Linked DNA regions of Homo sapiens: region 2 is linked to region 1. The links come from fine-mapping of genetic effects on gene expression. A gene starts in region 1. The other region holds a variant in brackets. All regions are shown on one strand. Distances are from middle to middle.

Evidence for each region.
Region 2: its variant is fine-mapped to the expression of PHACTR1 in whole blood (INTERVAL, PIP 0.94).

What each region holds. Positions count from the first base shown.
Region 1 is chr6:12,708,964-12,724,250 of GRCh38, reverse strand. It overlaps PHACTR1 (phosphatase and actin regulator 1), which reads right to left and starts at 7,484. Exons shown (of 15, transcript NM_030948.6): 1 at 7,355-7,484; 2 at 6,508-6,742; 3 at 5,404-5,552. The coding sequence starts at 5,506. The region is part of intron 1 of LOC107984015 (a long non-coding RNA gene); the gene reads left to right.
Region 2 is chr6:13,261,842-13,277,128 of GRCh38, reverse strand. It overlaps PHACTR1 (phosphatase and actin regulator 1), which reads right to left. Exons shown (of 15, transcript NM_030948.6): 11 at 4,214-4,269. It overlaps TBC1D7-LOC100130357 (TBC1D7-LOC100130357 readthrough), which reads left to right. Exons shown (of 9, transcript NM_001318809.2): 9 at 9,294-10,593. It also overlaps a transcript of LOC100130357 not described here. Among named protein-coding and RNA genes, the nearest start is that of TBC1D7, 59 kb to the left of the region's middle. RefSeq lists enhancers at 2,639-3,838, 4,550-4,649. The variant A/G (reference allele first, on the strand shown) is at 6,982.

The DNA of each region.
Region 1 (15,287 bases):
GGTCCAAGTGATTCTCCTGCCTCAGTCTCCTGAGTAGCTGGGATTACAGGTGCCCACCACCACACCCAGCTAACTTTCGTATTTTTAGTAGGGACAGGTTTCACCATGTTGGCTAGATTGGTCTCGAACTCCTGACCTCAGGCGATCTGCCTGCCTTGGCCTCCCAAAGTGCTGGGATTACAGGTGTGAGCCACTGCGCCAGCCCATAGTGCTTTTTAAAAGTCCATTTGCATCTTCCCCATGGTTCAAATTCATTTAAAGTGGAAGACCTAGATAGAGAAAGTTATTCGGGGAAGAATAGCTGCATGATGCTGAAACCTTTTACTATGAAACAAAGGTCAGTAGTTGTCAGCCCTGGCTCCACATTTGAATCTCGTGGGGGCAGTTTAAAAGATTACCGTGTGTGGGGCTTATCCCCAGAGATTCTGATTTAATTGGTCCATAGTGGACTCTAGCATTTAGGTTGTGAAATCTCCCAGGTGTGGCCTATAATCCCAGCATTTTGGGAGGCTGAGGTGGGAGGACTGCTTGAGGCCAGGAGTTTAAGACCAGCCTGGGAAACATAGCAAGATTCTGTCTGTAAAACTTAAGAAATTAGCCAGGCATGGTGGCATGTGCCTACAGGTACTTGGGAGAATGAGGCTGGAGGATTGCTTGAGCCCAGGCGTTTGAGGCTGCAGTGAGCTATGATCCTGTCACTGTACTTTAGCCTGAGATGACAGAGCCAGACCCCTCTCTCTCTCTCAAAAAAAAAAAAAAAAAGAAAAGGCCAAAACAAGGATTCCAGGTGGTGTTTGTAATGTGCACTGAATTCAACTGTTGCTTCTCAAACTTTAATATAAATTACCTGGAGATTTTGTTAAAATGCAGATTCTGATTCTCTAGGTCTAGGGTGGGGCCTGAGATGCTACATTCCTAACAAGCCCCAGACGAATGAATGAAGCTGGTGCTGTCAGTCTGGGATCACACTCTGGGTAGCAAGTGACTGACGATCCATAATGGTGGTTCTCAAGCTCCAGTATTCATCATAAAAACCCATGGGCTAGTTGAAAAAATGGCACTGGAGCCTGGGGCTGGCCCTCCCAGGGTCTGTTTCTCTTGGCTTAGGAAGAGACCTAAGACAGTCCCTGGCCTATAATGTCCATTTTAACCTAAAAATCTCATGATGTTAATTTTGTGATTTTATAATATGTCTTCTCTTCAAGTTCAATTGTTCACTACAAAATTACAGAGTCTGAAGTTGAGTGTGTGGGGTAGCATTGTCAGAAACCTGAAACACAGATGAGCTCAAATTATGTGATGCCAAGACATGATATTTGAAGCCATGTGTATCTCTAACCTCTGGAGTTCTCCTTTTCAGTTAAAGGGGACTTCCGCAGAACTCCCTTCGTGTTAGGATTTACCATTGGCAAACGACTCACTAGTTAATCAAGAGAGCCTCCTTCACTGACAGGAGGCAAACAGGAGGACCCTGTACATTTTCTGCTCTCTGCAACACATCATACCTTCTAAAGCAGAATCATGAGAGAGGCAGCTGATCTCCCCCACCTTGAGGTCCAACCAGGGGAAAATGGAGGTGGGAGAAGATAACAGGTTCTTTATTCAGAAGAATAGATCAGGCACCTTTGAAAATCTCAGGGAATTCCAAAAGAATTTTTCTCATGATAAATTGCCTTTTTCCTTCTTTTTCTTCTCACCCTCCTGGATTCCTCTTGCTTTAACTAGCTAAAACGTCCTCTATTCAAGGGAAGGCTATTGCCACTTTCCAAGAAAAATCTAAAAGAAACAACTCTGTGTGGATCAAAAACATAATTCTGGCATTGTTGCTTTGGATAAAGATTTTGCACATGACTAATACAGAAGGTGTTATCTTCCTGGAACTTTATGAGTTTGTAAATAAATTGATATGAGGCTGTCATGTGGGAAATGAGAGAGGGGAACTCAGATTTTCTTGCTTTTCCCTTTAAAAACATTTACATCTGTAAGAACACTTGATCAGTCTATAGAAATATCTGCATGACAGTGAGAATAGACTACTCAAAAATGCAATAATCACACAACAGTTTAGCCAACCAAGCCTTAGGTCACCCAAGTTTTATATACTTAACCCCATACTGTACTTTCAAGTTGGCCTTCTTTTTAGAAGAAGTAATCAAATTGGGGCTACTTGGCCTTACTAATATCCTCTGCACTGGCTGGACTGGCCAAATAGAGAACTGCCATGTGGTGGAGTGATTCAGCAATAGCATGAGACCCTAATTGTCTCAAATGTGTTTCTCAAGAGCTGGCCGCCAGCTTGCCCTCCTTCACTGGTCCTCGGAGCCTTGCCGTTGGTTCGATACAAGCTTGAATCCGGCCAATGTGTGCATCTGGTTTGGATGGGAAGGGTGCCGGCCATGGTACTCAGGCCTTCACCCATTCACTGTTCCTTTATTAGGCCTAAGGGGTGCTGGTTGTCCAGGACAGACTGTGGAATCTGTGCAAAGGGGAGGGAAGCTACAGTGGAGGAACCCATGCAATGCAGTGCCAAGCCCCAAGTAATGGTAAAAGCAGAACTTGAGAAAGGAGCCTCCCAAGGTGATAGGTCCTGTGTGCTGGGGATCTAGGGAAGGTGTTGGAGGGAGAGGGACTCTCATCTTTAAAGTGAAATGAAGGACAAGACAGATGGAGAGCAGCAAGATGAGCTATTTTTCAGTTATGCCCTGAGTTGGGTTTTGACAGGACAAGAAATGAATCACTGCATTTTTAAATGTATTTAAAATTTCTATTTTTTGTGGTTGTTGCTAGAAATAGGTTTAACTTTTTAACTTTTATCAGGCCACATTTCTTGTTTGCAAGGCAGTGGCTTCATTGTGAAGTTTTTTTTTTTGACAGAATCTCACTCTGTCACCCAGGCTAGAGTGCAGTGGTGCCACCCCCACTCACTGCAACCTCCGCCTCCCAGGTTCAAGCGATTCTCCTACCTTAGCCTCCCGAGTAGCTGGGATTACAGGCATGCCACTGCGCCTGGCTAATTTTTGTATTTTTAGTAGAGACAGGGTTTCACCATGTTGGTCAGGCTGGTCTCGAACTCCTGACCTCCAGTGATCCACCCGCCTCGGCTTCCCAAAGTGTTGGGATTACAGGCGTGAGCCACTGTGCCAGGCCCATTATGAAGTTTTAAACAGAAGAGGATGGGCTTTTGCTGGGATTTTTACTTTATTGATTTGCTCGTGTGTAGCATTTCTTATGTGGCAGACACTGTTTTAAGCCCTTTAAAATCTTACCTCATTAATGCTCTTAACAACCTGTGAATTAGGAACTATTACTGTTTGCATTTTGCAGAGGAGCCTGCAACCACTATGTCATCCTGCCTCTAGTGTTGAGTACAATGTTCCTGTTGTGAGGTGGAAGAGGAGAAAACGGGATTAGGTGGACTGGTTCGTAAATACTGTCCCTAGACTGATGAACTGGCTAGGTAGCCATCCCTGGAGCTCTTGCTTAAAATGCAAATTCACAGGCCTTACACCAGGATATCTGGTTCAGGAAGACTGGGGGTTTTGAAACACTGACCTAGACAATGTGTGCGGGAACCCCCGCCCCTCCTGCAAATCCAGGAATCCTTGATTGAAACATCATCTGATTACTCTAATACGAACATGACTCCAGGGAGCAACAGTAGCTTATGCTGCCACCTCCCATGCATTTTCTAGTCCTTCCAGCTCCGGTGTCTAAACCACAGTCACTGATGGTGACAATTCTGACCACTCCACCCCCAGCTCCATCTGCTGAAAACCAGAAGGCTGCCTTGAGTCCTCCCGAGCCTCCCACACACTGCCTGCTTTCCTTCCGTAAGATCTTGGAGCCCACGGTCTTCTTAAAGGCTTAAAGCATCCCCACAGCAAGACAAAATGGGCATCTTTATTCTCTATAATTAACTGCTGCCCCCCTTTCTGTTTTGCCAACAGCTATGCGGTTCAGCGGGATGACCCCGCTACGGAGCATTATTGTCTCATTCCAGTCGAATGGACCAATCACATAGCAATGTGTGACCTTGAGACTGGAGAAGGAATTGAGCCTAACTTCATCCCCCACCCCCTTCCAACCTCCATTCTACCTCTACTTCCAGCATTTTCTTACTTGCAGACCCAGAAGAGGTTGGAGGTCCTGGCCAGTCTCTCACTCTTTTCCTTCTTCACTCACATTTTTATGTGTCTTTAAGTGGCTGGGAACAGCCATGTTGACTCCATACACCCAGAAGTTTGAGGAGAGTTTGCTATTACATCACTTCTGCTAATTTCAGCTCTGCTGTTGAGCACACAGACCTCAGCAAATCAACCAGACCATTTCCAACCCCTCTTGACTTTAAGAAGACTGGGTCATGCTCTGAGAAATGAAAGCAGAGAAGGAGATGGCTTGCAAGCCCCCTGAGGTTACCACGATAAGTTGGCTTGAGAGGGAGGTAAAAGCAATTCAGAGGACCACTTGGGAAAGCCCAGACAGGATATTATCAGTGGCGTGTGTAAAGTTCCCATCACCATCTAAAGTGAAAGATGCCAGAATTATAAAAACTGACTGCATTATCTTCTCAGCTCTGCTTTGTGACTTCTAAGAATTCAACTGCTTTTCTATTTTAAAATAGGGACATTGTCCTCCTTCTCAATGCATCACCTGTATCATTTGGGACATGCCCATCATCAGGTTGCTTTGACTGAACACCTTAAACATTTCATGGAAAACAGAAAATATGTGAAAAAAAAAATCTCCTCCTAGTCACGAGATCCCATATAACACTCCAGCTTCTTCTTTAATGTGGTGGAAAAACATTCTAAATACCCCAACAGAAGGGCAAGAAAACTGGAACCTAACTGACCATCTTGAAACATGTAATAAAAACGGACACATCAACCACACTTCCCAAGAGGCTTGCTCCCTGAATGTACACTAGTAATTATCTGAGGCGGTAACTGAATTCAGCTAAAATAGAGAAGGCAGCTATAGAGAAGCTCAGCGCTTCTCTCAAGAGCCCCTAATCCTGCTGGATTCCAGTCCACTGGGTCATGATGCCCTAAGATTTCAAGAGCTGTGGCTGCAAACTGGAAATTCTCCAAGGGGAAGAGCATTCTTGATTCTTTTTGGACATAAGTGTTGGACACAGGTGGTAGGAAATCATTTCTAACATAGCTTTCTGAGGGGCACTTACACCAAAAGTTGGGCATTTTTTTAACCACATCCAAGAAGTGTGGATTTATTTATTCTATTATATACCTGCCTCAATTCCAGCAGCAGTTTGGTAGAGGTTATCAACTTAGAAATACCGGTTATTAAACTTTCAGAGCAAGGCTTTAACAGCTACAGCCTACATGGCTGTTCATATAAAACCGACGTGCAAATAAGAGGAATTTCTTTTTCTTATTTTATTACCTTGAGCTCCTTGACTGTAGAAGAATCTTTGAGCTGACTCAACATCCAAGAGTCTGTGAGCAGACTCTACATCCAGAAAATAATCCATTTTGGGATAATCCATCCTTGATGTTCCAAACACAGAGTTTTGAGAGAAAACACTGGAACACCTATAAAGAGGAAAAAAAAATCCACAATATTTTAGACGTCAAGTATAAAGTGTATATATAGATGTACTTTAAAATGTTTGAATAAGAATATCCCATTATAATATTCTACTACTTGATTGACATTTGCAATTCTAAAGCCACCCCCCAGCATAGCTTTCCTACCGTGTGAGAAAATGCCGCATTTAGCCAACATTCATTAAAAGTAATATATTCTACTCAGGAAAAACAGATGATCTGATCTAAAGAGAGATAACATACCAGCCTTTCCTTGCTTTATATTCTCTGGAACATATACTGTTAAATTCACATGCTATCAGTTTTCAAAAGGTCTATTTGATAAATAGCGTCATTAAGTGTCAGCCGTTGTGAGTGTTGATCCTCAGCTCATCCTGGGACTTTCGGATTCCCCTGGAGCAGGGAAAATTGCCTGGGAATCCGAGCCTCCACTCATAGATGCCGTGCGTTTATGACACACACTGACATATTTGCTGTACAAATGCTTTGAATTCCTTCCTTTCCGGCGATTCCCTTCAGCACATTTTATAAAGTGCTAGAGGATCGTCACCTGCCTGTGCCTGGCAGGGGCTGATTTTTGAGAAACAATTGTGGTTTGTAGAGCAGCAAGAATGATTGCAGCATTACAGTGATCCCTATATTATCATACACTAGCCTGTCACAAAGCTAATATACTTCCCCAGAAAACATTCAGCCTGTTGGGTTCTTTTTTCAAGCCTATGTAGCCTTTCCCTGATACTCACACAAATGAATTATCTCTATTTCTGCAGAATATTTTTTTGGAAAGAATTAACAAGACAAAGTCATTAAAACCAAGCTTGGAAGTCTAATCCAATTGGTTTCTCTTTCTAACAGTATGTATTTTAATTTAAGAAACCAAGTCCGGTAAGACAAAACTTTTAAAAATACCCAAAGGTACCCCAATAGCAAATATACTTACTGCAAAAAATAAAAATCAAAGGCTATCTGTCAGCGGTAAAACAAGAGCCGTTCCAGCCAGAGTGTCTTTGATCTTGCTAAATATTCCCGGTGAAAGTAAACGATTTTGATTGTTTGATTAGAACAGTGATGAATAATGCATACAGTCCACTGGACTTCCTTTATCAGATAAAATGGCCAGAGCACGTTACCTTAGCAACGGAAGGTGACGCCAGCCTCAGCCTCTGCACCCTCCCCTGCGAAGGGAGAAAATTACCAGTTTCCCGTGTAAAACTTTGGCAGAAAATCATCAAATCCACATGCATACATCATGCAGGGCTATTCCCCAGCCCCCTATCTCTTAGGCAGAGAAGTGCCATAGTCATTAAAAAAAAAACAAAACAGATTTATGTCTTCATTGTTTATTTTCATAATCCCAAATCTTAGTTTGATTTGCAGCTACAAAAGAATAGAATATGAAATGATTAAAAATTTAATATATAGAAAAGTTGTCTAGAAATTTTTGTGGGGGCACCAGTTATTACCCTAATGCTGGCCTAAGAGTGGCAGGGAATGGGGGAGTTTAGGGAAAGGCCATTTTAGCTTAACATACGTTAGACATTCCCCTGTTATAATTAATACACAGAACAGCCACCGGCATCTAGGCTGAAAATAACTCTTCCCTTCTGCAAATCAGTCACTGGAAGAAGCTTAAAAAGCTGTCTGAAATTTCCCAGATTCTGAAAGACATATTATAGCATAGATTTTGTGGGAGATCCCCACTCCCCCCACAACCCCCATCCCCGGCAAAGGAAAATTAGCCAAAAAGATATTTGAAAGGAAGAGTCTGGAAGTTAGCGGATACTCACCGGCACTTGTTGACCCCTTTCAACAGGACACGGTAGAGTACAAAACAAAGCAGTGCGACGCTTCTGAGCCCGCAAGCACAAATGAACAGCTTCTAATTTTCCCTTCAATCTCGCTTCAAGAGCACTGAGCAGAGGGAAGTGATGGATTTGCCCATTTATACTGTGATGAAATGCAACCCTTAAGAAGAGATCTGAGTGGAGCTGCTCTTTAGAACACATTAGACTGCTAATTTAAGAAAATTGAAAGGTTTTGTTTTACTGTCTTTTATGTGTTCTTCTCTGCTACCCCCTCAATTTAATTTGCATTTAAAATTATTCTCATGTCTCCTCAGCTCTCCAAGGTGTGGAGTACTTTCTAATCATGAAGGCTGCTCCAGTAGGGTTTGGTGCAACACCACTTTTATGCTGAGCTGCAAAACAAGGCAGGTAGTCATAATTGTGAGCTGTTTTCTGGAGCGAAATACAGAGGGCACGTTTGATGTCACCCCTTCCCTCTTGCCTGGCTTTCTTCCTTTCCTTGCTTCTGATTGCCTGGTCAAATATCCAGCGCAGATCATGCCAGTCTGCCTAAATGCATTTCTCTCTGTCTGAATGTAACAAAATAATACCAACAACAAAAATAAACTTTGGCTAGTATCTCAAGTTATTCTGGTTTAATATTCTTCCTACCAAACCTCAGTAATGACTTTTAGGCACAGTACTTTGAGATCTTCATGCAGGGCATAGTGATAGCCAAATGCAAGCCCTACTGTGGGTTTTCCACAACCTCTTGCACCCTTTGTTGACCAAGCAGAATTGCTCATTAGTATGGTGTGGTGTACAGTGGGTCAGCTTGTTAAGAAAAGAGCATTTACATTTGATAAGCCTCGGAAGGAAGACCATCAACACCACCCCTGTCCCCCCACTCCCTATACACAGCTCGGCTGGCTGCCCTTGAAACAAACCTGAAAATCCTCTGCTGTTTGTTTTGTGGGGTCTCCCTCTCCCACCCGATCAGAACAGATCAGACACCAAGCCGGTGCTGCAGACAGTTAAGCCTCATGAAAAAGGAAGCTGAAACTACCAATCATATGCCCTTGTAGGAAAGTCAACTATGGACTCTGAATTCTGAAAGCTTTGCTCCAACCCAAGGACTGACTTCTTTAAGGTTACTTTTCTATTCAGCACCCACTGGAGACATGCTGAACACTTGACATTTATAAGAGGAGAAAGCTGTCTTCTGGTTCCTTTTACTTACTGTGAGGTGTGGGCGACAGGTTCTGAACTCGTTATTGTAATTCTACTGAAATTGTAATGACTCATAGATGAGAGAAAGAGAGAGAGAGAGAGTATAAGTCTATGCTGCTGACCAAACCTTTAGGTGAGTGCAAATGAATGTGTGATTGAAGAAAGAGATGCTAAACTGGAAATGTGAAAAATAGAGTTGATTCCCAGGGGGTAGGTGGTGGATTTGGAAGTCAGTCATTTCTGGAGAGTTGACCAAGAAAGAGAAATTTAAAATACTTTACAAAGTGAACAAATAATATGAAAGGGTCGTAATTTAAGAAAACTCAGGAGGGAAAATTTCAACTTAAAGAAATGTATTTGGGGCCGGGCACAGAGGCTCATGTCTGTAATCCCAGCACTATGGGAAGTCAAGGTGGGTGGATCACCTGAGGTTAGGAGTTCAAGACCAGCCTGGCCAACATGGTGAAACCCCATCTCTACTAAAAATATAAAAAATTAGCCAGGCATGGTGTTGGGTACCTGTAATTCCAGCTACTTGGGAGGCTGAACAGGAGAATCGCTTGAACCTGGGAGGTGGAGGTTGCAGTGAGCTGAGATCATGCCATTGCACTCCAGCCTGGGTGACAGAGCAAGACTCTATCTCAAAAAAAAAAAAGAAAGAAACAAAGAAAGAAATGTATTTGGGAAGGGGATGATTATTCATTTGCAAACAGGGACTTACTTTTACTAAATAATTATCACTGTGTTCTGTAGCATCATATGACCAACTTCTGTAATAGATTTTCAAAAAATGATCTCACTCTCTGGGGAATATAGCTATAGATTACATATAGGTGTGTGTGTGTGTGTTCAAAAATTATTTTTAAATATGGTAAAGCATAGTAATGTTCAAAAGCCAATGTCAAAATCTGATTAGCTCAATTCTGTTTTGTAACTTTAAACTGCTCCAAAACAACACTTATAATGGTCTATTGTTCTGAGAAATAATCAGAGAGGAAGGCAAGGTTACATCAAGTATTCAAGCTAACACGTATTCGGCACTGAACAATCCAACCCAAAACATTCTCAAGATTTCAGCTCTGCAAAACTTAATTCAGTGTTAAAATATCTCTATGACCTAGAAATAAAATATTATTTTAAAAATTCCAAAATCAAGTCATATGTTTTACATTGATGGCATTAAAATATGAAAGTGTAGAACTGTAAGGTTGAAACAAATAATCTAGAATTATTAAAAATATGTGAGATGGTAGAGAGATACATACTTTTTTGTTTTTAGTTTGGTTGGAAGAGGATACATATGTGAGTATTCTATACACAAGCAGATGTATTCAATTAATTCAAAACAGAGGTATGCTTCATGATGGAATCTAGAGGCAAGTAAAGATATAAGCTTGTATTTATTTTGGGGGTGTGCTTATTTATTGTGTTAGATGGCAAAAGACCCAAACATTCCAGGAGAGATCACATGATTTGTAAGTAGGTAACTTGCTCTTTTTACATTATGCTGTTGACTTCCATTGGAACCAGCCTGGGTTTATCCTCTTTGCTAAGAGATAAAGCAGTTCTTCTTATTTATAATTTTACAATGAATTTTCCTTGTTTAATTACCTTATATTCCAGAGCTCCCTAGAAGACCATGTTTTATATTTGTGTTGGACTATTGAGGTCTGGCCTTCTACTTAAATGACATCCTGGAGAAGATTCTTTTTCTGCTAATAAACCCAACTAACTTTAACTTTAAAATATTAGAGACTTTCTTAAAGTGTGATGATATGTTGGATCTGTTGGTTTGGTACCTAGATTAATAATCTTTGTTGAAGTGCTAGCGTGCTAGACAACCACAGAAAACAATATTCATTCATTTTTGCAAAGACCTGACCCCAGAATGTTTCAATAGCAGTGGCTCCCTCTGCTTGATAAGTCACTTTACCTCCCAACCCCTCCCTCGAAAGAAATTTCTTTCCTTTTTTTTTCTTTCATTAAAAAAATTAATAGTAACGGGGTCTTGCTATATTGCCCAGGCTGGTCTAGAACCCCTGACCTCAATTGATTCTCCTATCTCAGCCTCCCAAAGTGCTGGGATTACAGGTGTGGCCTCCTTTCCTTTCTTTATAAAGTTTGTCATTAATTGATAGGGGTACTGCAAGTATTTTATCTAAGGCTTTATTCATATTGAAATCTTGATGGCAGAGAAAACATGTTAAGCCATCATCAGTTATTTTGGCTTTAGAGTAATTGAACTTTCAGTTCTTTCTCGTGAATAAGTTTTGATGATACTTAGAAAGCTAAAGAAGGCTGGGAAGACTGGGAAACTGTGTGGAGAAAGAAGTCTCAGGGAAGAGACCTTAATTCTATTCCGTATAAGCCTACAGTCATGTTTTGAGGGCTTCCTTAAGTTTAAGATACCTGGTACTCTGCTGTTAGAAAAGGGCATTAAATTTGTTAGCATCTTCATTTGAACCAGGGCCAAAGCTGCCTTATAGATTCAGAGGTGGATTCATTAATTCTATTCAAGAACGTTGTGCCAAAGGAGTTTCCCCTTGGGCCATCCTCAGTTAGCAGGAAAAGTCTTCACACCAAAACCACAAAGCCCTCTGCTCTTGAAACTGCCCTGGAGACAGCCACGCTGGATGAGGTGCACACTGGACAATATGGTGGGGCCAGGGCCAGGCAGAGGACATCCATTGGCCTCACTTGCTGCCCACTTCTGAAAATATCCTTTCCCTTCTGTTAATACTTTTTAGAAAGGTCAGTTGAGAGAGGAAAGAACAAGAGTTCATATGTCATCTTACCCTTCTGCCAACTGGATTCTAGTAAGTTGATCTTACTTATAATATGAAAATCTTTTTGTTTCAGAGAAAAAAATAGTCAGATTCAGTCCCCATCTCTGTGCCCAGGTCGTTCATCTGGAAATAGGGGAAGGGGGAAATGTTGAGTAAGGAAACAAGAAGTTCTCTAGCAACTCTCTACTTACTATAACTGTCAAATATCTAAATATGAAGACGTTAAGATGACCACCCAATGATGGAGAAGTACATTGACAATAGTAATTTTTTTACATGAATTTTAGGATACATAATAATGATATTTGACTTATTCCCTCTGGCAAGAAAATCACATTGCCCTCAATTCTTTCATTCTCTCTCTCTCTCTCTCTCTCTCTCTCTCTTTCTTTCCTTACTCTCCCCCTCTCTGTGTGTGTGTGATTTATTTTCAACTCTCCTGGAGAAGGCTGACAAATTAGTCACAAGTTCCCTAGTGGGAGGACTAGCCTTTTCCTAGTCCCCCTAAAAATCCAGATAGCAACCCTGAAAATATCCAAACACATATTCAAGAAAGAAAGAACAATAATCTCTAAGAGCCACAAGTCTAATAGACCCTACGTTAATGATATGGCCCTTGAGCCTCCAAAGCACATTGAACAAATAGGACTGAACATAGCAGTGAGAGCTCACAGGGAGGGAGGCAGTGTGGGTCGTATCTAAATAGTAATGGACTTAGGTGACTCATTCCTTTTAGCTTTAAAATACACTGACACATTCTACAGCAAAGTCTGTATGCTTAAATATTAACACTTAATGTTTTTCTTATGTATATGTGCAAAGACATTTGATGCATATCTTTGTATAACAAACAATTATTATTATTCATGACATAGTCCCCAGTTTAATTTGTTGTTCAAAGGTAAATGCTTTTAGGATCTGTCACCTGAAGGCATTGAAGGGTATCATATCACAGGAATTAAGTTTCCAAATCATAATTCTCTGCTCCTCGTGGATTAAAGATAACGGAAGACTCAACTCCTCTCTCCTAAGAGGAATGCCTTTATTTGTCTTTTCTGAAACAAAGAGAACCTTGTTGGTATTCACTGCATTTTAATATATCATAAACATTATCAGTAAATGAAAGAAAAATAATCTGTCATATTTAGCCTCAAAACACTCATTGCTGTATAATGAGCACCAAAGAAATGTTAGCTAATCATTCAGGAGACAATGCGTGAAGTAGTTAAAAATATCATCTAGAGGATCCTAGTTCTGTAGCAGAACCTTGCACGCTAATCTCCTTGGGTCTCAGTTTCCATCTCTAGCAGAGGAATAAAAATCAGGGCCAAATGAGACAACGCAGAGCCTGAACACAGGAAATACATAGGTAGTATTTAACAATAATTTTTGAACAGCCTACATGTATGCAAGGAGTTGAGGGAATAGAGCACCCCTTCCCATCCACTCCAACTGTATCCATCTAATATGTTGAGACATTGCCTCCATCACTCCAATTGCAAATAAGCTCTTAGTCCTCTGAAATTCGGTAGTATTTTGTCTATATCTCTAACGTATGTTGTAGTTAACTATGTATGTATACATGAAGATTAAATGAGTTAATATGTGTGAAGCAGCTGGAGTGGTGCCTGGCTCCTCGTACACACCCAAGGAGTGTTAGATATTATCATTATTTTTCTTCACAGAGAGTGCTTCAAGGCACATTTTTTTTTTCCTGGTGGGCCATATAAAGTAGGAAAGCATTGAGGACCCATGCCAAGACATCTTCACCAAAAGGACATCTGTTATTCTTTTTGCTATCCTGCTTTCCTGAGCGAAGTTTGCAACAGTGAATGACAAACTAGAGCAGAATTTTCATGAGTTCATCTTCTCTTTCCTCAGCCAAATTAAATGACACGATATATGTAGATGCTTGGCACAGAGTGGGCACTTTATACACTGCGTAATTGCACAACAACTGATGTTCTGGCAGGGTGCAGTGGCTCATGGCTATAATCCCAGCACTTTGGGAGACTGAGGTGAGAGGTGAGAGGATCGATTGAGCCCAGGAGGTTGGGGCTGCAGTGAGCTGTGATCGCGCCACTGCACTCTAGCCTGGGCGACAGAGCAAGACCGTGTCTCAAAACGAACCAGCAAAACAACTGAAGTTTTCTATTCTTCCAGGGATTGGTCCACAGATCTTGCCCACTGTAAATGTTCAGGTATTATACATTTATTCATCATTGTTTCATTAGCAGATGATAGTTTATCACTCAATATGTGCCAGACACTGTAAATAGTTGCTGGGAATACAATAAGCTAGTTTGATTCCTTCCTCAGGAGATTACAGTTTAGCCTGAACTTTGATTCTCTTAACTTTTTTTCATGTGAAAGCATACACTGAAAACTATCCTATCTGTAAATGAGCAGAAATGTCTAGAAGCAGTCATCTCCAGGGTCTCAGCCACCAACGACCAAGAGAGAGGCATTTTGGTATGCTGGTTGGGAACCTTTGTGTAGTGTTCAACCTTTAATGTGTTTAATTTCTCCTTAGCTTTTCAAATTAGATGGGAATACAGTACTTAGTTGGTGGTAGGGGAGGAAGGAGTAGACACTCAAACCTGGTACTGTGTTTAATGCTGAAATTGTAGGGTGGCACTCTCATGTCTGAACTTTGAATAGCAACAAAAAGGATTAGCAGGCTGACTGATGGAAAAAAAACAAAACAGAAACATGTACCACCATGTTTTAAACGAATAATCTTTAAAAATGGTTTCAAGAGCTGTTGGTTTTAAACCAATTGATTTTTAAATGTGCTTTCACAGTACTACGATGATAATTGCCTTGAGTGAGTTACCATCCGTCACAGGCTCTTTTGTATATTTCACAGCTCTCTCCTGGGAGGACAAATAATAGAACTGCATTGTATTTCACTAGCCTGGGAATTGTGGGACCCAAGGTACTTGGGAGAAGTTCATGTTCTTTAGCCCTTAGAGCATTGGGAGTAACATTTTTCAGGTTAGTATAACCTCCTCTGGCAGGGTAAACATTTGGGCTGCATTTTTTTAAAGAGCCCTTGATTTAAAAAAGCTGGTAGTGGTAAACAGCAAGACTCTACCATCACATTTTTAACATAGCTCTGGAGGAACTATGATTTAAAATCAAAAGTCTTCTCATTCCTATGGCAACCAAAGAAGTATTCAACTAATGTAACATGCTGTGTCCATTAAGTGCTGTGTTCCTCCCCCACCTTCTGCTGCCTCCCTCTCTCTGGATCAACCTGAACCTCACTAAACTGTATACCTGGAAAAAGGCTCTTTTCCAGATGCAGAATTGGCTTGCAACATGCAAGCCATCAAACCCATGAATGTAAAAGGGAAGAGTCCTCCCAGAGGAAACCTTTACAAACCCAAAGGGAAAAAGCACCCCAAAATAGAGACACCGTCTGCTTCCCTCATTTGACATGTTTGAGAGCTCCTTGTTTTAAAGCCAGACACAAATCTGTGAAGAGATTCCCTTGAGTTACAACCCTTTTTGGGAGCAGCTACCATGAAGATAACATATGTGGTGAGACAGAGCCAACAGCACCCACTGTGCTGCAGCACAGCCATGGGAACATTTATCACACATTCCCAGGAAGCTGGAGTGGTTACTCATGCTTATAGAGAAATACCCTCCCTGAGCCACTGCCTCATGGGGTGGTGGGGGTTGGCTGCCACCATTACTGCCTACATTTCAAGGAGGACTCCAGTGGCTTTATGCTCTCCTAGAGGGCTCCTTTTTTTAGTCAGAAGCTGAAGCCTGAGATTCAAAGACCCCAAAATCAAGGAGAAGCAGAGTCTGAATTCTGGCTAAGTGATTTTGAAATTTACAAGAAAGAAAATAATTTTCAGGGTGGAGATGGCCAGGGATGCTTTACATAAAGTCTTGCATAGATTCCA
Region 2 (15,287 bases), 550 kb before region 1:
TGAACCTTGGAAGAATTCCTTGATATCTGTGGAAGCACAGATATCAGCGTAGCATTGTTGGACTTGGAAAAACTATGGAAGTCAGCTTGTATCAAAGAAGGCCTGTGATTCTCAGCCGTTAAATTTCAAATGGCGTTAGTAAAAGGAAACACGTTGATTTTGGCATAGGGTGCATCACGACTGCCTGGGACACTAGTTGGCTCATTTTGAAAATCACAGTTGTTGAATTATATTTTGGTAACTTCATTAGTTTGTTGTATTGGTGCACACATGCAATTCAGGTATGGTTGCTGATTGTCTCAGTATGGGACAGGTCTTTATTTTATTTTTTAAATTTTTTTAATTTTTTATTTTTTTGAGATGGAGTCTTGCTCTGTTGCCCAGGCTGGAGTGCAGTGGCATGATCTCGGCTCACTGCAAACTCCACCTCCCAAGTTCAAGCGATTCTCCTGCCTCAGCCTCCCGAGTAGCTGGGATTACAGGTGCCCACCACCACACCCAGCTAATTTTTGTATTTTTAGTAGAGATGGGGTTTCACCATATTGGCCAGACTGGTCTCGAACTCCTGACCTCAGGTGATCCACCCGCCTCAGCCTCCCAGAGTGCTGGGATTATAGGCGTGAGCCACCGCGCCCGGCCTTGGGACAGGTCTTTAAAGGAAGGAAACCCCCTGTGCCTAGAAAGGGGTGGGGACCATCTGATAACTGTGTCACCTTTACACTCAAGGTGACTATACCTCCCACTAGCACAAGTGGTGTAAGGTCAGAGCAGAAATCAGGCCCTTGAGGGCCACCCCCACGGGCCTGATTTGGCCCCCCAACCGCCTGTGGGCATAAGGCTTTGTAGAAAGGCAGCACAAGAAACAGCCACATCTTGCTGTGGGCTGAGGTCACCAGAGGTCCCTGCTCCAGCCTACCCTACAGTGCCTGAAACCGTCACCATGAGTGTGCTTTCCTTTGGATTTAGAGATCCTATCTCCCTCCCGGAGAGGTTTTTTTTTTTTTTAATGCAAATTTCTCTTGAATAAAAGCCCATTAAACTAGTCAGCCATTAATAGCTCAGTATGAATTAATCTAGTAGAGATAAACTGGGGGGCAGACAGCAACACCCGGAAGTAGGGAGCCCCCAGACAGTGACATTTGTACAAATGCAAATTTCAGTGGGATAAAACCTATTAAACTAGTCAGCCATTAATATCTTAGTATGAATTAATCTAGCAGAGTTAAATGGGGAGGCAGACAGCAAGAACCAGAAGGAGGGAACTCCCATTTTGCGATGTCTCAGGTGGGAAAACGGATGGAAGAAAAGGTGGTCTGGATGTTGGGTCACCAGGGACAGCTAGAGGGCACACGGTGAAAATTTACAGAAGCACAGAATACTAGGGCCATGAGGGGACCTAGTGACCACCTCGTCTACCACTCCTGGTTTATAACTGAGGATCTGAAGCCTCAGGGGTGTTAAGTGGCCAGTCACACCCTACCTGGCTCAGTGGTTACACAGATAGGTTTTTTCCTGTGGTCATGTTTTGTGTGGGGCCGGCTCTCCTCCTCATTACTAGCCTCAGACTTCTGATCCTACAGGTCCCTTCAGAGCCGTGAAGGCGGGCATCCTGTGACACAGCTGACACAGCATGGAGCCTTCATCTCCTATGTGCGTTTCTTAGGTCACTCTGAGGGGTGGGGCCACAAGCTACCACCTACAGAATTGATACCTTTAGTTCAAAGCCATTGACCAACCCAGGTTCATGAATTTTCAGGCAGAAGGTACCAAGACAACCCCATTAGGCAACTAGGAAGACAGGCCAGGAAAGGCCTACGATGTCGTCATTACAGCTGCCACCGTCAGAGGGTTCATTATGTGCTCAGAGGTGCACAGGGCCTCACTGGCTGCTGGACAGAACAGGGGCTGCTCCCAGGACCAGGCAGGGTGGGGCTGGAAACCAACCCAAGGCTCTCAAAGCTCCAGGGCTGAGCCATGGCATCTCTGTGCCCTGTTCCCCACCACCCAACACCGAGCAGTTCCTCAAATGGCTGAAAGCTCAGAAAATCAGTTTTAAAACAAACTATTGGAGGATGTTTTCTTATACCACTAGACATTTTTTTTGTTTAACAATCGCAATAGATTAAATTTAAAAAAATATTTAGGAGAACATAGTTCCAGAATACAGGGAAAAATAAGAACCTATGGGAAAACAAGTTGATTTCTGAAAAGTTTCAAAACTATGAAATGACCAACCTGTTAGAATTGGTCAAGTAGTTCTTTAATTTGCAACTATGTGGCCAGGACAAGAGGGATTAGGGAAGAGAATAAAAGAGAACCATGGGAACAATCTTTCACAACTCCTTTTTGGTCCCCTGAATCTAAGTTCCCTGGTTGATGGCGGTAAAAACCCAAGCTCAAAGGACCTGTAGTCTCCCAGGGATCTGGACAAGCCACAGCGGGGATCTGATATCTTTGAGAGAGCCCAGAGCTGAGCTAGGGGATTTTAGATCTCTCCAGAAACCGTACTCCTGGTGTGATAAGCACTATTTTCTGAAACCTAAATAATCCCCCGGAGGCTTTTAGCTTCTTTGAGTTTAGGTCTCAGGTCAGAGGCCACAAGTACAGCAGCGGGCTGTGAGTAAGTTGTACAGGTTCACCTGGCTGTTTATCTTTCTCTCCAACAATGGGAAGTTTATAATGGCTCAGGTACCAGATTGGGGCCGAAAGGAAGACATCCTACAAGCCAAATGCTTCCCTGACCTTGGAAATGCTTTGAAAAAGCTCTGAATTCATTATATAGAATATTAAGCTTGGAAACTTTAAAGGGTACCCCTTGGGCAGAAAAAAGTAAACACACATTCCTAGAGACCTAGGCAAAGCGTAGGGTTCCCCCACGACTGAGGAAGGCTAATCCTGAAAATAACTTCTACTGAGAGTTGAGGAAGTGGCGGCTGGCGTGGGGACGGGAGGCAAGACATTGATAAAGGCAGAGTTGACATAAACGGACATGCGGGGGCGTCGGGCGGGGGTGGGTGCTGTAGGCAACAGGTCTCCCCACCAAAGCGGAACCCAGCACCCACCTTCAGCAGACTACGAAATGCCGACCAAGTCACAAGGCCACAGTGAGCACGGTAGAAAGGTAAAGTCAAGAATATCTTAGTGTGGTTTCAGTGGAAATTCCCGGCAAACTCACACTGCGGTTGCATGTGATTTACTGGGCACGGGGCGGGGCGGGGCGGGGGGGCCGGGGGAGGCAAGGAGTCAGTCTGTACAACATAGCATTTCTAGAAAACTCTGCATAGTATATATCTTTCTCTTCTGGAGAGAAATTAGAAGTGTGTTGTGGGGTAGGGGGAACAGGGTCATGAATTAAGCCAGAAATATTTGTTCACTATCTTGAGGCCAGTGTTGGCGAGAATGGTAGCAATGAATGAATAGAATGGTTTGATATTTAAGTTATTTAATATCTACCACTAAACTGACGCATACTGCTGTCCATCAAATGCTTGATCTCTTTTAGTATTTTGTATCCTGTTTTCTCTTTTTTTTTTTAAAGCACCAAGTGGATCCTCTGTACATATTCAAATGTCTCTGTGTCCTAAACCAAACAAGGGGCTCATTTATTTTTTTCTGTCTGCAGCAATGGTGAAAGGCAGTTTTCCTCGAATGAGAGCATCAGACAGGCATGCCCGGGACCAGCTGTGGGAATCCTGAGAGACAGACATGAAGCACTTCACTTGGAAATGCTTTCTTAGTCTTTCAATTTAACATTCAAAGGGATGAGGGATTTTTATCAACAGCAGCCAGCTGCAATGCAAAGTCATGCTTTCTAGTCTCAGTTCAAATGGACATTTCCCTTATTTTAGCCGTGCATATCACAGTCTCCATTTTCAAGCCAATTCTGGTTTAAAGGTGACCCTGCTCTTAAAAATCATTAAATAATAAGTGGTCTCACTCTAATTTTTCAGCTTCTCTCTGACTTTACAACTCACTAAAAGGAAGGTTCTGCCTGCCGCCCGTGAGCTTCTAAAGAATAAAGTGGAATAAAATTTGCCTTCTCTTTGGGGAGGTCGTCTTTGGTGTTCTAACATGCACACATGAAGCTTCAACCGTTAGAAAGGTTTTCAATGCTTTCCGCAGAGGCGCAAGGTAGAAACCTTGTGGCCTACCATTAAATAATAACAAAAGCCGCCACAAAACATCAGGGATTGCCATGGGCTTAGTCACTTACGTTTCAAAATGTTCCTCTGTTCCAGTTCCTCTGCAGTTGGCCTCTGGCTCAGCCGCCTACGGAAAAAATCCAGGAAAAGTTTTTGGACCATATCATAGCCTCCTTGGGTCATTAATTTCCTCGGCCCTTGCAGATACATGAGACAGTCAGTGGCTGGAGTTCTTGTTCCATCCTGTGCTCTGAAAGACTGACTCTCGCCACCACCGCCTCCTCAGTTCCTCAATTTCAAGCCCAGGAGAGGCACGTGCGTCATGTCACAGCCGCTGACCCCCGCCCTCCTCCCTGCAGCGGCCCCTCCCCAGCCCCATCTCCTCCAGTGGCCCCAGGCAAGTGGACTGCAACTCAGACGGGACTCTTTTCTTCACAGAAGTCCTTTTCTTTCCTTGTGGCCTCCTAACTTGGGGACTGTGGCCTCTTGCCTCTCTCTCCCTCCCTTGAGGCTAAAGCCTGTCTCCTGCCTCTTCTGTGCAGACCCAGTTAGAACATAAAGAGGTCTGTGGCCCCGGGGACATGTGAGAGAATGTGTCTGTCTGCAGAGAACAATGGCTGCTCTTCTTCTGGTCCTGCTCCTCTTATTTCGGAGGCTTAGAAGACATGAGTGGCAAAGGCACAGAAATGATACTTCTGTGGCCAGGCGTGAAATTTAGCCACCGTACATGAAACATCATAGCCAGGGCATGAGCCTGCAATGACGCAATGGGTGGAGGCGGGACAGGCAGTGGATGGCACGTAGTGACAGAAGTAGCCAGGGAACGGGCATGGCATCTGAGGGGAGAATGCCTGCATTAGGTCCCAGGAATGACTGACACGGACTCAGGAGCCTGAGCAGGAACAGAGACATCTGTACCTTTGAAGCTTTTGGTAATTATTTAACAACCTGCAATTATCCGGCATTCCACTTCACCCATTGGGATGAGGTGTGTGAGAAACTGAATCATTGTAGAAGAAATTTTAGGCTTCTCAGACTCCTCTATTGGGATCTAAGGGGTAGAAATGATGCTCTCCTAGTTGAGGAAGTTGCAGTCCCTCCTTGGGTATTAGAAACTGGTGTCTATAGTCGGCAAGATGTTCACATCTTGAAATCTAAAGAGAGATCCTAGAGTGAAAATATCAAGTCAATGAAGTCTCCAAACCTAACTACAGTTGGTCCTCTGTGTCCATGAGTTCCACATTCTTCGGTTCTACCAACTGCTGACGGAAAATATTAAAAAAAAAAACAAACAAAAAACAATAGTCTAAAATTATTGATATAGCATTTATCTTGTATTAGATATAAGTAATTTAGAGATGATTTAAAGGATATGGGAGGATACACATAGTTTTTTGCAAATACTACGCCATTTTATACAAGGGACTTGAGCTTCCTTGGATTTTGGTATCCAAGGGAGTCCTGGAATCAATCTCCCAGAAAGGACTATATTTTTAATTCAAAGCTTGTTGTCATTTGTGTTTTTGTTTATTGTGCTGGGCCAGAATCAATTGCTTCTGTGACATTCCCGTGTCACCACCACACATCCTATATAGGGAATGGGCTTCAATGTCTCATATAGTTTGGATATTTGTCGCTGCCCAAATCTCATGTTGAATGGTAATCCCCATTGCTCGGGGGGAGGCCTGGTGCAAGGTGCTTGGATGGGGAGCCCTCATGGCTTGGTCCTAGCTTCTTGACAGTGAGTTCTTGCAAGATCTGGTCATTTAAAACTTTGTGGCGAAACCCCGTCTCTATTAAAAATACAAAAATTAGCCGGGCATGGTGGCACATGCCTGTAATCCTAGCTACTTGGGAGGCTGAGGCAGGAGAATCGCTTGAACCTGGGAGGTGGAGGTTGCAGTGAGCCGACATTGCGCCACTGCACTCCAGCCTGGGTGACAAAGTGAGACTGTCTCAAAAAAAAAAAAAGAAAAAAAAAAAGCATGTGGCAACTCCCTGCTCACTCTCTCTCTCTCTCTTGCTCCTGCTTTTGCCATGTGATGTGCCTTCTTCTCCTTCACCTTCCTCCATGATTGGAAGTTTCCTGAGGCCTCCCTAGAAGTCAAGCAAATGCCAGGGCCATGCTGCCTGTATAGCCTGCAGAACCATGAGCCAATTAAACCTCTTTTATTTATAAATTACACAGTCTCAGGTATTCCTTTATAGTAATGCAAGAATGGCCTAATACAATGTCAGAGAAAGGATTTTTGGTCATATACCTGCTTATAAAGCCTATAGCACCCTGAAACTGTTGGAAATTGCATTCCAAAGTGTTTTTAAGAGTATAAGAACATTTTCATATTTATTATTCCTTTTCAAAATATCCCTGTGGTATAATATAAAACATATTTATCTTTGACCCAGTTCCTATCACAGAGCACCTAAAACCCCTGGAATTTCTGGGGTGTCAGGAGTGTATTTTGTTACTTGGAATGAGTCCCTTTGGATTACACCAGAGTTTGTGCTAATTAGGTGACTTAGGATGGGGCTGGCCACCAGAAAGAACACATAGTTAGAGGCCTGGAGCTTTCAGCTGGGAAGCAGGAGGGTGGGGGGCTGGAGGTGAAGTTCTATGGAAACTCTTAAACCACAAGATTAGATGAGCTTCCAGGTTGCTGACCATGGGGCTGGGGGGCACTGTTGGGAGGGTGGCACCCAGAGAGTGCACAGAAGCTCTGCCTCTCTCCCCCAATACCTTGCCCTGTCCATCTCTTCATCTGGCTGTTCATCTGTAACCTCTGTAAGAAACTGGTAAAGTAAGTGTTTCCCTGAGTTCTGTGAGCTGTCTTAGCAAATT[A/G]TTTGAACACAAAGAGGGAGTTGTGAGAACCCCAGTTTACAGCTAGTGGGTCATAATATAGGTGACAACCTATGACTTGGTATTGGCATCTGAAGTGGGGGCAGTTCTGTGGGACTGAGTCCTTAACCTGTGTGATCTGACACTGTCCCAGTAGAAAGGGTCAGAATCAAATTGAATTACAGGATGTCCAGTTCATGTCTGCTGGAGAATTGCTTGGTGTGTGGGGAGCTGCCTCACACAGAAATGTGTGGGGTCACAGAAGTGTGTTAAGTGTGAGAGTAGAGTGAAAAAAAGTTTGTTTTTTTCTTTTTTTGAGACAGAGTTTAGCTTTTTTTGCCCAGGCTGGAGTGCAGTGGTGCGATCTCAGCTCACTGCAACCTCTGCCTCTCGGGTTCAAGCGATTCTCCTGCCTCAGCCTCCTGAGTAGCTGGGATTACAGGTGCGTGCCACCATGCCCCGTGCTAGTTTTTTGTATTTTCAGTAGAGACAGGGTTTCACCATGTTGGCCAGGCTGGTCTTGAACTCCTGACCTTAGGTGATCCACCTGCTTCAGCCTCCCAAAGTGCTGGGATTACAGGCATGAGCCACTGCTCCCAGTCAAAGTTTGTTTTTTCTCTTTGCAATCCCATTAAGACATTTTTCATCCCCATTGACAAGGGCCAGCTGTGTATTTGGAAATTCACAATATTAGGGGGTCTAAATTTGGATGCAGTAGTCTTTGAATTCTTTCTAAAATAGCATTCTCACGCTGCAGGAGGAAAGCGATGATTATGCAACTGAGTGAGCCGGTGTCAGAGGTCTGGAATGCAGCTTACCAACTCCACGTTGAAAGATCTTAACAGCTCTTTCTCACCTGCCAGTTTATTTTCCCTAAAAATACTTGCTGCTTTTATAAGAGATGCGCAGCCACTTTTATGGAATGGTTTGGTAATACCCAGGCTTTAAGTCAAGCTAAGTTTTGGGGGCAGAATGTTTTGAGAAAGCCTTGTAAATGTGGGTGGCGCCTACATTTGGAGATCAGGCCAGTGTTTTGGAGTCTTATGCGAAGTGTCTGCAGACTACATTGTTCCCTCATCAGCTTTGACGGTGCCATCCCATTGATCTCATTAGTGAACATGACAACTGGCTCTGTGGTGGCCTCCCCTTTTTTTTATGGGTGGTCATATTTGGAGGGGGCAAAACTGAGTGACTAGACTCTGATCAGAGAAAATTCTGTTATTAACTAGGCTGCTTTATAGTCAAACACTCATAATTTCAAATGAGTTCCTCTGTTTGTGTTTCATTTCTCTGGAAAGCGACTGAGAACATCAAGACTAATCATAGCTATAACATGCAGCTGAGCCCGCCAGAAGGGCCTGTGCTATAGTTAGTTGTTTTGACCTTGAAAATGAGATTTGGGAGGAAAATGATATGGTGGCATTGTAAGGACAAAGCACTAAGTAGCTCAGGAGCTAGGAGGTTTGGGTTCTAGTCCAGGCTCTGCTCTGAACCTATTTACCTCAGACAAGGTATCAGATCCTGCTAGGCCTATGCTCTTTTCTCTGCAAATCATAAATACTAGTTTAATAAGCTAAGGCTGATTTAATGCCTATAATGTAAGGGTATGGTTCCAAGCACTGTACATATGTTAGTTCATTTAATCTTTATCTTAAGATTTTTAACTGAATTCCAGTTGCAAAGTCTCCTTTGCCCTGGGACGTTACATATTCATAGATCTGGGGATGAGGATGTGGACATCTTGTGGAAGGGTGGCCAATATTTTGTCTGCCATAACTATGATACTTTACTAGTCAGAGGTTGCAAACTGATGCCTGGTGCACTGGATTTGACTCTATCAGTTCTCTTTGGCATGCTCAGAGGTTACACTTTTTTCTCTTTTTTGAGACAGAGTCTTGCCCTGTCACCCACGCTGGAGTGCAGTGGCACAATCTCAGCTCACTGCAACCTCCACCTCCCAGGTTCAAGCGATTCTCCTGCCTCAGCTTCCCGAGTAGCTGGGATTACAGGTGTGTGCCACCACGCCCAGCTAATTTTTGTATTTTTAGTAGACATGCGGTTTCACCACGTTGGCCAGGCTAGTCTCAAACTCCTGACCTCAGGTGATCCACCCACCTCGGCCTCCCAGAGTGCTGAGATTACAGGTGTGAGCCACTGAGCCCAGCTGGTTATACTTTTTTTGAGCCTGAATGCCTTTAGACAGAGTGTGTGATCAAATTAGCCCTCTCCCCAGGCCTCACTTATGTAATACAGGTGAGCACGCTCACATCTGTCCTGCTTTTTTTTTTTTTTTTTTTTTTTTTTTTTTTTTTCAGATCATTCCTGGACCCCCGAGGGCCTCTGAGTTTGAGACGCTGGCTGAGATCAAATGATAAGAATTCCAATTTTTGTTTTCCTAAGTCTTTCATCTGCTAATCTACCCAACATGAACCACGGGCCACATGAAGGGCCAGACACATTCTTAAGCGGCTCACAGCCTAGAGGTGCACATCTGTGATTACAATGTGCAAGGTAAAACTGGATCAACAGTTTCCAAGGACTGGCATGTAATAAAATATCCTCAAAACAACAAGCAAGTTGGGCGTGACTTAGACTTTCACTGCCCATGTAGAAGGCACTGTACATTCTTGCAGCATCTCAGTTGGCCAGCAAGAGGTGAGTCAGAAAAAAACCATTCAGCAGCCACATGGAAGTGGGGCTCACTGGGCACAAGGCAAAACTGTGAAGAAGATAAAGTGTCTGTGGTTCTGCATTGACTCTATTCCCTGGAGTCCTCCCCTCTCGAGTTCCTAGAATTATGTTATCACTCTTGCTCTATCTCATTCCTATCAAGACCTGTTTTAGAAATGGGTGCCACAGACTCAGTTACATTCAAATGTAAACCCATTCATTCATTTAGCAAGTTACTTATTAGTGCCAGTGCTGTGTCAGGTTCTACATTAGGTACCAGAGTACAGTGATGAGCAAAACCAGTCCCTGCCCTTCTGGAACAGAGAAGACTGGAAGAGGATGGGGGTAGCCATTAATCAAACAGTCACAGAAATGAGTGCAAAATGTAGCTGGAGTAAGGGCTTCCATGGTGAGGCACTTGGTGCAGGGATCTCTGGATCTGACCAAATCAGGAGGTCAGGAAAGGCTTCCAGGAGGAAGTGACACTGTGCCCAGAGCTCAGGGATGGAAGAAGGATGCTCCTTCTGGGCAGAGAGTAAGGAGAGAAGATTGGTGGGAAGGAGGGCAGGGGCCAGATGCCGTGGGTGTGATTTGGATCTGTGTCCCTGCCAATCACATGTTGAATTGTAGTCCCCAGTGTTGGAGGTGGAGCCTGGTGGGACATGATTGGATCATGGGGGTAGTTTTTCATGAACGGTTTAGTACCAACCACTTGGTGCTGTTCTAGTGAGTTGAGTGCATTCTCGCGAGATCTGGTTGTTTAAAAGTGTGTAGCACCCTTCCCTCTTGCTCCTGCTCCTCCAATGTGAGACTCCTTGCTTTCCCTCTGTTTTCCACCATGATTGGAAGCTTCCTGAGGCCTCACCAGAGGCAGATGCCAGCATCATGCTTCCTGTGCAGCCTGCAGAACTGTGAGCCAATTAAACCTCTTTTCGTTATAAACTACCCAGTCTCAGGTATTTCTTCACAGCAGTGTGGGAATGGCCTAATACAGATGCTTCCGGGACTTAGATCTTCTTTTTCTAGGAGCAATGTGAAGCCGTTGAAGAGTTTAAGTTTTAGGGTGTGAGAGGGGAGGAGTGAATGAAATGATCAGACTTACAGTGGAAAGAGATCATGCTGGTTATTATATGGAGAAGGGATTGGGGGAGGCAAGAGGAAACCCGAGCAGAGGCTTTGGGAGGCTTGGCACACCTGGTAAGAAATGGTGGAGGCTTGGGCGAGGCTGTGGCAGTGATGTGCAAGCTCTTAGGAAGTCAGGTAGCATATGTGAATGGACAGGAAGAAGCAGGTGTACAGGATATCTCCTTAGGTTTTCTAACTCATGCAACTAGATGGATGGGAATGCTGTTCACTGAGGCAGGCACACTGCAAGAGAACCAGCGTGTTTGTGAAGGAAGAGTGGAAGAAAACCATGAATTTGAATTTGGATCTGTTACATCAGAATGCTCCTGAGACATATGAATGAAGCTGTCATGTAGGCAGCAGGATACATTTAGCTCAGTGGAGAGGAGAGGACTAGGCCAGTGATAGAAATCTGAGACTAGTCTGCAATATAGACAATATTTGAAGCCATGAGTATGGAGAGAGTAGAGAATGGGAAGAGGCGAGGGCTTAGGATGGAACTTTGCCGAATTCCAGTATTTAATGCATGGACTAAGGAGGATGACCCTGCCATGGATTCTGGGGAGGGGAGTTCTTGGAGGTAGGATGAGGACTAAAATGTCATATCATGGAAGCAACGTAATGGGAAAGAAAATATAGTAACTAATGCTAAGGCTTTCTGAAGTGGAGTCGAAGGTTGCAAGAGGATCGCACTCACACCTGCTGAAGGTCAAACCCAGGGGATGTTCCAATAGACTCGGTCAAACAACTGAAGTCAGCATCTGCTGGCCTTCAACACCTCAGCTGAGAGTACTCTCATTAACTAACCAATCACAACGGCTTTGTGATTTAGGATTTCTGCCTGGCCAATGAACTACTTCCGAAAATAACTTTTTATGACAATCCTCTATTTTAAAAATTCTCTCCTGCAGCCTGCCTTATAGGGCACTCTTCAGGGCTGCCCTGATCCGGTGTACCCCAGCTGCCATTTTTGCTTCCCAAATAAGTGCCTTTGACCTGCATGTCAATCTTTTCGTTAACAGTAAGATGATAGGTATGGCCCACAAAGAGTTCTGAGAGCTGCTGTAAGGTTAGATGAGGCCTGAAAAAAATGCCCACTGGGTTTAGCACCATGGAGGCTGTTACTGACAACACCTAGAGCCCCTTCAGTGGCGTGGCAGGAAGAGAAGCCAGATTGGAGAGGGCTGAGGACAGGGGTGGAAAAATGGATGCACCGAAGCTGGAGGACTTAGCCACGAAGCCTGGCTTTGAAGCGGGTGAGAGAAGTAGAAGTGAAGGAGGCTGTGGTGGAATTTTATTTTATTTATTTTATTTTATTATTTTTTTTTTTTCAGAGATGGGGCCTCACTCTGGTCACCCAAGCTGGAGTGCAGTGGCACCACCTTGGCTCACTGCAGCCTCAACCTCTCGGACTCAAGTAATCCTCTCACCTCAGCCTCCTGAGCAGCTGGGACTATAGGCATGCACCACCATACCTAGCTAATTTTTAATTTTTGGTAGAGACGAGGTCTTTCTGTGTTGCCCAGGCCAGTCTCAAACTCCTGGGTTCAAGCTGTCCTCCTGCCTTGGCCTCCCAAAGTGCTGGGATTACTGTTATAAGCTACCACACCTGGCCAAATTGTATCGTATTTTTTTCTCAGATGAGGGCTCACTCTGTGGCCCAGGCTGGAGTGCAGTGGTGCAAACTCGGCTCACTGCAACCTCTGCCTCCCAGGTTCAAGTGATTCTCCTGCCTCAGCCTCCCGAGTAGCTGGGATTACAGGCACATGCCACCACACCAGCTAATTTTTGTATTTTTAGTAGAGATGGGGTTTCACCATGTTGGCCAGGCTGGTCTCGAACTCCTGACCTCAGGTGATCCACCCACCCTCAGCCTCCCAAAGTGCTGGGATTACAGGTGTGAGCCACCACACCCAGCCCAAATTTTATTTTTTTAATGGATGAAAATGGGGCATGTTTAATGGAAATAATCCAGATTAGATGGTGGGGGGTGGAGGGAGAAGCTGAATATATAAAAAGGGAAAGGCCCAATTGGTAGTGCATGAGTCCTGAGAAGGTAGGAGGGCTTGGGATCCAAGGGATGGAGGTAGCATTATTTTTGAGTGGAAGAAGAACAGCTCTTTACTGGGACAGCAGGGAAGCAGGACAGAGTGGGTTGCATGTAGATTTGCAATGTTCCGTATTGGAATTATAGAAGAGTTCCCAATTGATAGCTTTTGCTTATTCTTTCAAGTTGAGATACACTGAAGATGACTTATTTTAGTTTAAAATTTTACCATTCACTGGGAGATTTGTCTTTGATCAGAGACAAATTCACAAACCCAAAGCATAAAGCTCCAGCTTTGGAATTCTAGTCATCAAAATTTTCGGGGGACACCCAGGGCATCTTGCCATCTTCACCAAGCAAAGCAGCCATCTGCTTGGCTCATTTTATGATCGATGTACCTGGTGCATCTCTTAAGTACTGGTTAACATAGAAAGCTGAGCAGCAGAGCACGACGACGTGGTCACCTGTATGAATCATCCCAAGGAGCTGCTAACTCCAAGAATCAAAGTCAAGATGCCTCCTGAATATACTGTATCTCCTTTGCTCCCACCTTGCCAGTAGATTTAACTAGTTGTATCTGATTAAAACTAACATTAAATTAAACAAAATTCCTGACTGTATATCTAAACGTGATCACTTTGCTAGGTGTCAAAGGCAATGATTTTTGGAGATAAATTTTTACATAAAATGAATCATCCAAAATTAAATGTTTAATGTACTTTCAAGGGATCTTAAGTAGCTTTGCTACTATATATGTGACCCTGGTTTATAAAATATGTCTGAGCAGCAAAATGGTTTCCATGCCTCAAATGGTTTTTTCTTTACCATGGACTATGGCTAAATGATTCAGTGAACTGAAAAAATCTCTGGGTTCCTGTTTAAATGCCACATGCTATCAAGTGCTGTATGTGAGCCTTCTATTTTCTTTAAAAATTTAAGAATGGATCTTGCCTTTTTTTTTTTTTCAGTCTGAACAATGCTGTCTCTACTGGTGACCATAAGAAATAATCAAATAAATTGAAGTTTTCTTTTTGCATGGAAAGACTGAAAAAAAAAAAAAAAAAAAAAAACACTAAAAGCCCAAAATAAAGGACACTTCAGTTTTGACCTTGGAAAAAGAAGACTGGTAGAGAATGTAGTGGCAAGATGCTTTAAATGTATGCAGAGCAGGCAGCATTGTCTTTGCACATTACAGCATCTCCCTAGAGAAGTGACAAAACCCTTGTAGGTTTTGTTGGTCTGACTTGTTGAGGCTGACAGAGATTAGTTGTGCTGCACAGAGCTAATGGGCTTTCTGCCGTTTCCAGAACACCAAGGTCACAGCTTTCATTAGCATTTACAACTGCTTATTGTTTTGAGGGCCTTGATTTTAAAGTCTGGATCTCTGAAACTGTATCTGCATTTCAGGACAAAGGAAAAACAGAATTAACTTGGGTTTTCTGCAACTCAGCACCAGAGAAAGGTAACTGCATTTTCAGACAGATGGAAAGAGGAAATGCAAAAGTCCTCACAGAGAATGACAGAAAATAAGATCCTCTCTCCAAAAGTAGGAGGAGATGGGGTTTTCTAACAGGTATCCAGAAGTGTAGATGGGCTTGGTGGGATCAGGGGAAAGGGAGAAGCACTGAATTCTATCCCCTCTACATCCTTTGGAAACTTCCTCCTGAGAACCTATGAGTTCCATGAGGATTGGGGCATTTCTGTCTGGCCTTGGTTATTACTACATCCCCAGTTCCTAAGAGAGCATAGAGAGCATAATAGATGCTCATTTAGTAACTATTTAACCCAGATCCCACCAGTTCAGATGCCACACATGCTCCTTGGATGATCTCATCAACACTCATGACTTCCAATAGCATCAATATGCTGATGATTCCAAAATCTAAACCTCCAGTCATATTTTTGAGTTCCTGGCCACCTTTCTAACTGCTGTCTTGTACTCCTATGGGCCATCAGACTTAAAGGGTCCCAAATGAATTAACTCATCTTCTTCCCCCATACATCTTCCTCTCCAAGTGGTCTTGTATGGAGTCCTAGTGAGATGCCCAGGCCATGAAACTGGGAATCATCCTGTCTGAACTTCACTCTTGATGGCCAATCAACCACCAAGAGTCCTATATCCAAACCATCTCTGATTCCATCTACCACCACCTTGGGGAAGCAGTCCATCAGCATCTCTCCCAGTTGCTGCCAGCCTATCCCACTCTGGTCCTCCTCCAGCCCATACAGAATGATCTTTCTAAGGGACCGATCTGATCACACCACTCTGTGCTTGAAAAGTAAGTATGCCTTTACAGTGCTCACAGGACAGAGTCAAAACACTCAGTGTTCTGAAAGATTCTTCATGATCTGGCTACCTGCCTGTCAAGAATCTGCCCATTCTGTCCTTCACCCAGAATGATCTCTTCTTGGTTCCTTCCAGATTTGCATGCCCTTCCTCATAGCCTTACCATTCTTTTCCTTCCTC